2 separate regions of the Homo sapiens genome follow, and region 1 is linked to region 2. The links come from fine-mapping of genetic effects on gene expression. A gene starts in region 2. The other region holds a variant in brackets. All regions are shown on one strand. Distances are between the middles of the regions.

Region 1 (5,185 bases), 610 kb before region 2:
CTCACCCTCCCAAGTTCTCAAGTAACTGCACTACAGACAGGCGCCATCATGCCCTGGAGATACAGTTTGGATCTGAATTTCCACCATTCACCAAGTCCTCATCCTCACAGTTCGTGTGAACAAGTCACACACATCTGCATGCCCACAGACTATGTCCTTAGCACCCGCGCTTGGGAGAACAAGACAAATAACTGTCAAGGTCACTGCCCTGGAAGGACACACAAAATAGTATGAGAGCAACACTCAAGAGGCTTTGTGAATAAAGAAACTCCCATTGCAAGTGAAAGTACCTAACACCAACTCCAACATTAAGAATGTGTCCCGGGGAAGGGAGAGAAACATGAATGGCATCTTCAGAGGCATCGGGGACGTGTGGAAGGACAAGATGGGTAAGATCTGGAGAGACAGATGGGGAATGGCAAACATCTGAGGCAAAGAAGTCTGAAAAGAAAAAAGAAAAGAGGGGGCAGGAAACAGCACTGTGTGTCCGGGCCAACGGGAACAAGACAGAAACAAATGTTCAAGTTCAAGCTGGGAAGTGTGCATAATTATGAAATAAGGTTAAACGGACCAGGCAGAACACAGCCACAAATGGCCTTGCCGAAAAAAGCACAGGAGCTGAGACGTGCGAGGACGGATAACAGGAAAGCCTTCAACACAGGACACACACAATGGAAAGTGTGTGGCAGGGGAGCACAAAGTGACCTAAGGGATGAAAGATGTGAGTGCGCAAAGGAACAAGGGACCCCTGGTCTTTCCCTGCAAAGGGAGGGGCTTACGCTGCAACGATGGCAGTGCTGGGACAGACAGGGACAGAACCAGGTGCCTTGGTTCCTGAAGGCACAGTCTAAAGGGTGTGTCTGCTGAAGGGACAGAGACACTGAAGGGGTTCCTGGAGAAAGCCAGCACTCCTAGGGCACAGTGAAACTGGGATGAGGGCGAGGAAAGGAGAGAGCAAAGAATGAGGTGACCACATCTGCTGTGTAATGGAAATAAGCCCAGACAGAAACGGCACTGGACAGGGTGGCAACTCCTGGGATGCACAGGAGCTAATGGAGCCTCTTCTATCGTGTGTTCCCACTGGTCACAATGAGGACAGCTGTCCTCAGCAGAAGAAAGACCAGAGTCCAAGCCACTATCTCGCCTGCGGCTGTCACCACAAAAATCGGGTTCAGAAGGTGGCCTCTCATGTTCTTCCCTCTCTCCCACAACTCTCCTTAAGGGCTCCTGACCTTGACCTCTCCCACCCTGCCCTCCTACACTAGGTGGCCTCCCGCCTCCTTCATTTTCCCTTTGAAGCCTTTATTAAGGAACCATTAACATGCAGGGGGAGGGGGAGATGCACTTGACAATGTTTAACTTTTAAAGTTTGTGCTTTATCTTAGAAATTTCAAAAAGAAACACTTCAACTCAAGCACCCTAGAATTATACATCCCATTCTAAGTTCCTAATCTGTGGGATCATATCACTATGCTCCCGTGAGATCTTAAACCCTTTAAGGCACAATCAATCAGTGTCCTTCACTGATTAATTTCTCCTCCCCGCAAGCCAGGAAGAGCAGCCCTTTGGTTAAAACTGATCAAACTGTACACCTGACATGTGACCACTTCATTGTATGTAAATTATAACTCAATTTAAAAAATGAGTCCCCCACACCTTTGTCAAAACACAGGACATCTGCAACCATCCCCCCAGAAGGTTCCCTGGTGCGCCTTCCTTGTCAGGTGTGAGGCTTTCGTTTGTGTGTGGCCAAGAAGTTTTGATTTCTCTTTCATAAAATGTTTCAGGTACACATCCCTGGGTAGAAGGAAGAAGCATAGTATGAGAAAAGAACACTAAACTCGAGAATCAGATCTCGGCACTACCTGTGTAAGTTTCACCACCTCGGAGTCTCAGATTCCCCGCCCTCCAAGGGAGGGTTGAGCTAGGTGATTGCTCCAACTCGCTGAAAGCTCTGACATTCTGTTTCTGGGCTGATATCTAACAAAACAACACCATGCAAATGCCTACTGAAAAACCTCCACTTCAATTTTGCTTATGTAAATACCACTCAAGCGAGTTAATGAGAACTTTAACATGTTTTTTTTTTAATGGTACTGACCTCAAAACAAATGGTAAATTTTCATTAAATCAAGTGAGATGCAATTAACATATCTGACCTGACTGTGTACCTATTTATACTAGGCACTTTTTACCTGAACAATTTTCCGGCAATACTAAATTACAAGTAAACTCTTGGTTAAAACAAACAAACAAAGGCATTAAGTTGAGTGAGGCGTTTTCTCCCACTCTCTCACCTCACAGGACTCACATAAACCAGGACTCGACCCACCTCCCGTGACTGCGTGCCGGGCACTGCCGGCCACTCCTGCCGCCACCGTGCGTTCTAGTGAGGCACATTCGCTTTCTGACGTGCTCACAAGTCCGCCGGCGGAAGCTACGGTTCCGTTCTCACCTTAACTGCATATATACCTCTTTCCTCACTCTGAATGCTGAACTGAAAAGGGCATTTTCAGGTTAACTCATTTTACTGTTAGTTTTCCTCAATGACAAAAAAAATTAAGCAAATACTGAGGATTTTATACCATAAAACTACAGTAAGAAATGGGGGCAAAGGACACCACACAAACATCACTCACAGTCTACTTTTGGAAGGAAAAAGGTAACATATTTCATTTTCGGATTTAAAAATGTTTTCTTTATACTACAGGGTGGAAGAATATACGTGCGTGTGTGTGCGTCTGTGTGT[T/G]TGTTTGTTTGTTTTTCTAACAATTCAAAAGAAAATTTCCTGAAGCTGGTGAGGCAAAAAAAAAAGTTTCTAACTAGTAAGTTTTAAATCATAAAAAAAAGAAAAAAAAGGAGAAGAAAGAAAGAAAAAGAAGGGAAATTAACCACTACCTCAGAACAATAGTTTTAAAATGGTTTAATTGTAAAAACTTGGTGGCAGCTCAGAATTTGAATTTCGAGTTCTTCTGTAAAGTCCTGCATGAACTGGCAAGGTAAACGTCACAATTTTGAAAATAGTGAAGTAAGGGAAATAAGGAAGTCTGAACGTTAAACAATCCAAACACCTCCTCTTTTATTAAATCTAACGTTTGGCAAAGAAACCAGCCTTTGCCTCAAACTATCAGGGTTGCATGAACTTTTTAAGCCACACTCAAGTGTTTTGGAGAACATCCCCCACCCTGCCCAACTCTCTGCCCTGTGTCCACCCCGGGCCGTGGGCAGCCACTCTACTTTACCTGGCGATGCCCACTGCCTACCACCCCCACTGCCTCCTCCCCAGCTCCACCAGCCCAGCTCACTGAACAAGGGTCAGGCCTCCCACCTAAGGCAAACAATCCACAGGCTAGCCAATATCCTCAAACCCAGGACCAGGGCAGGGGTCGGGGTGGGGAATGAACTAGATCAAGTTTCTCTCAAGGATGTGAACTATGAAATGTGACAGGAATTGGTCACTTAGAAACTGAAAGAATGCAACAAGAAATGCCACAGAGTTGAACTGGGGCCAGAGGGCTTTCAGACAGCTAAGCACGTCCTCGAGCTGAAGCCACATGGAAAACTAGGAGTGAGCAAAGCAGCCAGCTGGTGGCGGGGTAGAAGGCTCCAGCACATGGAGCCAGGCACAGTCCCACAGGGCAAAATCCTAGAGAAAAACTGTGGCTGAGGCCCCCAGAGCAGCCAGGAACCTCCCTCCACTACCAGGCTCTGGAGCTCAGCCCATCCCAGCTCGAATTCCCGGATTCCTGTGTGATTCCTATCACACTATACATGTTCCCACTCACCAAACTCCTTCCCAAGCTGGCTGGAGTGGGTCTTTGCCTCATACAACCAAAAGCCAAAACAGCACAGATAACATGCAAATGGCAAACATGGTAAGTCAACAACATAAAATACTGTTAACAGCCCTAGCTACACATATTTAAGATGTGTAACTACATCTTAACACACGTAACTTCTTAACACACAGACATCTTAACACACAGAGCTTCTTACCCACACACACAAACCAAAACCTCACACCTGAAAGGGAAGGCGCACCACAGAACCTTCACCAGGGGGATGGATTCAAATGTCCTGTGTTTTCACAAAGGTGTGAGGGATTCTTTTGTTAAAACTAATCAAACTGTACACCTGACACGTGACCATTTCACTGTATGTAAATTATATCTCAAGTACAGTGGCTCACACCTGTAATCCCAGCACTTTGGAAGGCCAAGGCAGGAGGATCACCTGAGGGCAGAAGTTCAAGACCAGCCTGGCCAACATGGAGAAACCCCATCTCTACTAAAAAACAAAACAAAACAAATATATATGTGTATATATACACACACACACACACACACACACACACACACACACATACATACACACACACACACACAAATTAGCCAGGTGCGGGGGCAGGCACCTGTAATCGCAGCTATTCGGGAGGCTGATGCAGAATCGCTTGAACTCAGGAGGCAGAGGCTGCAGTAAGCCAAGATCGCGTCACTGCACTCCAGCCTGGACGAGAGCAAAACTCCGTCTCAAAAAATAAAAATAAAAATAGACCAGGAGAGGTGGCTCACGCCTGTAATCCCAGCACTCTGGGAGACCAAGGCGGGTGGATCACCTGAGGTCAGGAGTTCGAGACCAGCCTGGCCAACATAGAGAAACCCCATCTCTACTAAAAATACAAAAATTAGCGGGCATGGTAGTGCAGGTCTGTAATCCCAGCTATTTGGGAGGCTGAGGCAGAAGAATCGCTTGAACCCAGGAGATGGAGGTTGCAGTGAGCTGAGATCGCGCCACTACAATCCAGCCTGAGTGACAGAGTGAGACGCTGTCTCAAAAAAATAAATAAAATAAATTTTAAAACAAACCCTGTCATGTAAATTCTTCCCGTAAGAGGACTTCTTGTTTTTCAAAACTATTGATCTATATAAATCCCACAAACATACGCTGAGCAGAAGCAGCCAGCTGCTAAAACACCTGCGTTTCTATTTATAGAAGGAACAGAAACAGGTAACAGTCCTCTGTGTATTAGGAGTCAAAACAGTGGCTCACTTGAACCAGGGGAGACTTCTTCCTGGGTTGCCATGTTCTGGTTCCTGACCTTGGTGCCAGTATCCCAGGTGTGCTGAGTGTGACACACGTTTTCATCAGGTGTGTGCTCATGAAAGACACATTCTCCTGTCTGTAT
Region 2 (5,185 bases):
TAGAAAATGTGGTCAAACTACACCTGGTTCTCTTCAAACTCATCCTTGCCCCATGGCCCGGACCACAACAGGCTCAAGGTAGCAGCCAAAGGCATGAGTCCATCCGCCTACTTTGAACCTCCATCAGTGGCAAGAGCTGAACACTGCCTGCTATCCTCCCACATGGCCGGGACTTGCCTGTTGCTTCCTGCCTGTCCCAAGCCTTGCCCTCTGCCCTCCCCGGCTCCCAGCCCTGCCCTACCTGCCTGAGCCAGCTGATCCCAGTCTCTGGGCCTGAGCCCCACCTGCAGAGGTGAGGGCTTACTTCAGAGGTTCTTTCTCCCTAAACAGAGGAAAGCACTGGGGTCAGGATTGAAGGGCACGACCTTCCCATGTTTCTGACTCTCCTCTTCCTCCTCCTCCCATCCCTATCAATTCACCCCAATATTGAGGGGCAGGACCACCTAAGGAATCAGTTGGCATTTAGGACAGTGTGACTGGAGAGTAGAAATGTCACCCCCACTGCCAGCCTTCCACGGCAGCCACCATCGGCAGGTGGTTCCTCGATGTCAGACCAATTTTTCCAGTTAACTGGGTCCCAAGGAGTTAATAGGCAACTGCTTCCTTCTGGCTAAGTCACGCCAGGCCAGGCCTGGCCAGATGGTCCTCAGATTTGGCCTTTTCTCTCCTGCCAGGAGGTCCAGGCCCATTTCATGTAGAAGAGACCCTGCCTGGAATCGGGCCTGAGCATCCCGCATTAGCCACAAATGAGATAGATGATCTGGAGCAAGCCACCTAAATCTCCCTGTCCCTCAGTTTCCACAACCATTAACCAAAGATTAAAAACACATGTCCTGCCAATCCTCTGGGGTTACTGAGCCTCCCGAGTGACTTAATAGGTAGGAAACCTCTGGAGAAAACTAAAGCACAGGTCCCGAGCATGAAACAAGACAGCTGCTAGCATTTATGGAGCAATCACTCTGCACCCTCACCAAAACCTCACAACCACTGTTATTAATCCTAGTTTACATATAAATAAACTGATTGCATAAATTTCCCCCATAGTCTTTCCATTAGTAAGAGGGAAGCCAGAATTTAAATTCTCCCTGCCCAACTCTAGACCCGGGCTCAATAGCGTGGACCACCCAGCATTTGAGGGCCTCCTATCGGGGGAGGCCCAGGGGTGGTCATTGTAGCTGATTTAACTAGTGATATCAATTAGGCACTATTATGATGATGCCAGCTGGCCTATCGAGTTGAGGTGTCGCAGAAATGCCTCCGCTTCCTGTACAGGCCCAGGGCTTCCCATTGGGCCTTCTGATCATCAGAATCTCAGGACTCAGAATCCCAGGACTCAGACGACAGGAGACAGAAAGACGGAAGTTCTCTCGGTTGCCAGTTTCCGCATATCTAAGGGACACATTGCTGGCAGGTCCCCACTCAGAAAGAGACATGGATGGTCACAGTACCCGCCACCTGAGTCTTCCCTGTGTGGAGACACCCTCCTGCCAGTGCGCCCTGACCCAAAGATGTCATCGGATCTTTTTTACTCTTTGTTTCACTGGGAGCAAAAAAGTCACTCTTCAGACAGGTCTCCCACGCTAGGTGAGTCCATAGGCACAGAAGGAACCCCTCATGCATGGGAACTTCATAAAGATTTGCTGATTTTTTCCAGTGTTTGGTTGGGATAGGCGCCCCTATCATCGAACGACACTGGTCACCCAGGGAAGGAAAAGTCTGGAAGTTCCCCCAACTTCACCCCCTAAAGACCACATGGCTCCAGCCTAGGGAAGAGTTAACTTTCTGGCCACTGGAGACAGCGTCCTGCCCGCAGGGTCTGCCCAGCCAATGGCACTCTATGCTGATGATGTCATGCTCCTCCCGCGCCTTCTATTGGGGACTGGACAGCGAATCCTGCTGGAGGCTCAGGCAGCCTAGCTGAGGCAGGGCGGGGGCAGAGGAGGAGGAGGGGGAAGGGCAAGGAAAGGCGAGCAAAGCCACACAGAGCTACTCCTGCCTCATCCCTCCTTCCACTCCCCTGTGCCTTCTGACAGAAGGTGCCCCGGGGGACCGCCCCGTGCTGGAGATGAGAGGCACAGCGGCTTTGGTCCAGAGGAGCGAGCTGAGGGTTCCCATTCCCAACCGCAGAAAACAGACATCCAGCCTGCCCAGCAGGCGGACAGGGAGCAGGGTGCTTAGGGCAAGGGCCAGGATACGGTGCACGCACAGGCGCGCACAGGCACACACGTGCACCCCCAGGCATGCACAGCCACAGCTTCCTTGGCAGCACCCTCCCTCCCCCAGCCCAGACTCCTGCCTTACCTGCCTGAGGACTGAGGGTCCGCATCCAAGCTGCTGCCCCTAGCTGCCCCATCCACGTCGCTGGGCTCTCTGTGGGAGGCAAGAGTAGGGAGGAAGAGCTATGGCTGTGCCCAGCCCCTCACTGTCCCTCCACAGGTCCAGGCCGCATTGGGCTATGGGAGTAGAGGCTGCAACTAGAGCCTTTGAAGCTCTAAGTCCCCCTGCTCTGAGACTGTGCTCTCTCAAGGGTTCCTCAAAATGCCCTCCCAGCCCCGCTGAAGGTTCACGCAGCCCCTGCCCACCTTCAGCTTGGTGGCAGCCCAGCCCCATGCCCCCCCCCCCCGACCAACCGCCAGCCATAGCCCGGTCAGTTTCTCACGGTTGGACTCGGTTGGCAAATCGGCGGCGCCAGAGCATGGCCAGGGTGCTGAGCAGGAAAAGGGTGGTGCACATGGCGCAGCTGCCCCATCCCCTCCCAGGCCAAGTCTGCAGAAGGCCACAGGCGAGGGGCCAAAATGGCCCCAGCCAGCTCTCAGGAGCCACTGCCGTCTGTCCTGCGGTTCCTGCTGGGGATGGATTAGGAGGCTCAAGCTGATTAGTGGGTCAGCGGCCCCGACCTTGTGAGGACTGATTAAGCTCACTGGGCCCAGGTTCTCCCCTCCAGCGGTAGGGTCAAGGCATGCACTGTGGCATTGAGCACGTATTCGGAGTCTCGATCTGATGAGACTGGGCCTTGCTTGCAAGGAGCTGCCACTCTAAACAAATGTGCTGTCAAGTACAATGACTGCAGTAGAGTGACCCAGGAGTTATTCAAGGCGCCTACAGGGCACTTTCAGAGTTGCAGGCATCAGGGCAACGTTTAAAGAGGAGCAAGGGCCTCTGAATTTGCAGTGCACAAGGCAGGATGAGCCCTCAGACAGAAGACGCTGCCGAAGCTACTGACATGAAAGCATGGAGCATCTGCCAGTAACTGCAAGGTGAATGGAGGTGAAGCAATGATGTCACCGTGGAAGCATCAGGAGAGGAGGAAGAAAGGGGAGGAATATTGGATAATGAAGCCAGAGAGACGGGAGACTCAACAGTGAAGGGCTGGCAGTTTTACCCTCTGGACAATCCTCTCCAAACTTTTCTGATTACACGCCCTCTTCAGTAAAAGGCAGAATTCAAGTGTGCACTCACAAAATAGACAGGTGCAGCCACTTACAAATTATATGCTAGACTACTGTACAGATTCATTCCTACACCATACGACTATATTACATTTGCAAAGGATGAGATGAAAAGAAATAGTTACACGATTTCTCCTATTTTCTTTCCACATCCCAAGGGGACCTGTTGGGCAGCCACTTGGTCACACCAACTTTGAGAAGCTGTTCAGTGTGTGTGTGGAGCATGGAGCCAGCCATGGCCACGCTGAGACATGGGTCTGGGAGTGGTGTGAGAACCTGAACCCACCCGCTCCCCTCCAGCCCCTCCAAGACCCCCAGGAGGCATTAGATTTTCATTCCCTCAACAAGGGGGAGACAGTGTCAGAGGCACTGCCTCAGGGTCCCCCAGGCACCTGAACCCTGAGCTCCCAGGAGGGGCCCAGGCTGCAGCTGAGGCTGGCCAGGGTGAGTTCTCCTCGCCTCCCCCGGACCTTAAAGTCGGATTTTAAGAATAAATACATGAACCATAGTGAAAGCGCAGAGCCAACCCTTAGCAATGCTTGGGCAATGGGACATCAAGTCTTGAGCGAGGACAGGGGTCGCCGGGAGCCTGAGTGACATCTCTTCCCAACACTGCCAGGCCCTGTCTGGCCTCAGGCTGTCCCCAGGACTGAGCAGCCGCTGCAGGGCAGGCACCATGGGATTCTCCCCCCACCTCTGGCCCAATCTCACACTGCCCTGGATAGGGCCCACCAGGAGGAAGGATTTGCCTCCCCCAGGCCCGGAATCGGGCCCTTGGTGGCGGCTGAGATGTCCCCAGCAGCCTGCGCCTTCCTCAAGACTTTTTGTCTGCCAGGTCCTGTCTGCCCTATCCGGTGCCTCTCTGGACTTCCTCCGCCACCAGCTGGGCTAGAATTCAGGGCAGCGGCTGGTTCTTGCCTGTCCGTGTCATTCATAAGCCACGGGGGACTTCTGGCCGCCGCCGCCGCGTTCGTGCACCGAGGGCATGGAGGTGCTGGGCGGAAGGAGAGGGGGCGCAGGCCTCTGGCGCCCGAGGTCGGAGGTGCGCTCAAGTTCCGACAGCCGGGGCGGTGGGCGGGCAGGGGGACGACCCCCGTGCTAACCCCCCAGAGCCTGGGCGTCCAGAGCCGTGGGAGTGGCGCCGCGGCCCCCAGCGGCTGGCTCGGGGGCGCGGGGAGAGGCCCGGGCGAGGGGAGCCCAGCTAGGTCCACGGCGGCCGCCGGAGGGGCTCCTGTTCGCCCCCACGGGCGGGCTGGCGGTCGGCCTCGCCGCGAAAGCTCGGGAGTGTTGGACTTTGAGTCAGTTCCCCGCCGCGGGAAGGGTCCGCACGCGCACACTCGCGACGCCGCAAGCACTGGGACCCGGAACCCAGCGCTCCCGGCCCGCGCCCGCCCCAGCGCACTCCTGTGCGGCCCGCGCCGCCCAGCGCCGCGTGACCGCCCATTCCTCCCGGGACCCCCAGCGCCCCGGCCACACCTACCCGAGCCCCGCCCCGCGGTGCAACTCCGCCGTGGCCTGCGGGTGGGCGGGCGGCAGTCGCGTCGCCCCCACCCCGCGCAGCCTTCACCTTGCCGGCATTGGCTCTTACCCACACGGGGCTGGGGGTTTGGAGCGGATTTGTTTTTTTAAACATTTTCCAGCAGACCACATCCCCGCCCCACCGCTGGCTGTCCCCCGCCCCCCGCACATATACCCTGCACACACGCACGCACACACACACACACACCCGGCGCGCA

What was found.
Region 1: its variant is fine-mapped to the expression of PRCD in ileum (GTEx, PIP 0.90).

The regions. Positions count from the first base shown.
Region 1 is chr17:77,144,278-77,149,462 of GRCh38, reverse strand. All of the region lies in intron 3 of SEC14L1 (SEC14 like lipid binding 1), which reads right to left. Among named protein-coding and RNA genes, the nearest start is that of SEC14L1, 5.9 kb to the right of the region's middle. The variant T/G (reference allele first, on the strand shown) is at 2,750.
Region 2 is chr17:76,537,690-76,542,874 of GRCh38, reverse strand. It overlaps PRCD (photoreceptor disc component), which reads right to left and starts at 2,831. Exons shown (of 5, transcript NM_001077620.3): 1 at 2,660-2,831; 2 at 2,302-2,370; 3 at 242-322. The coding sequence starts at 2,733. The coding sequence ends at 301. CYGB (cytoglobin) reads left to right here and starts at 5,166. Exons shown (of 4, transcript NM_134268.5): 1 at 5,166-5,185.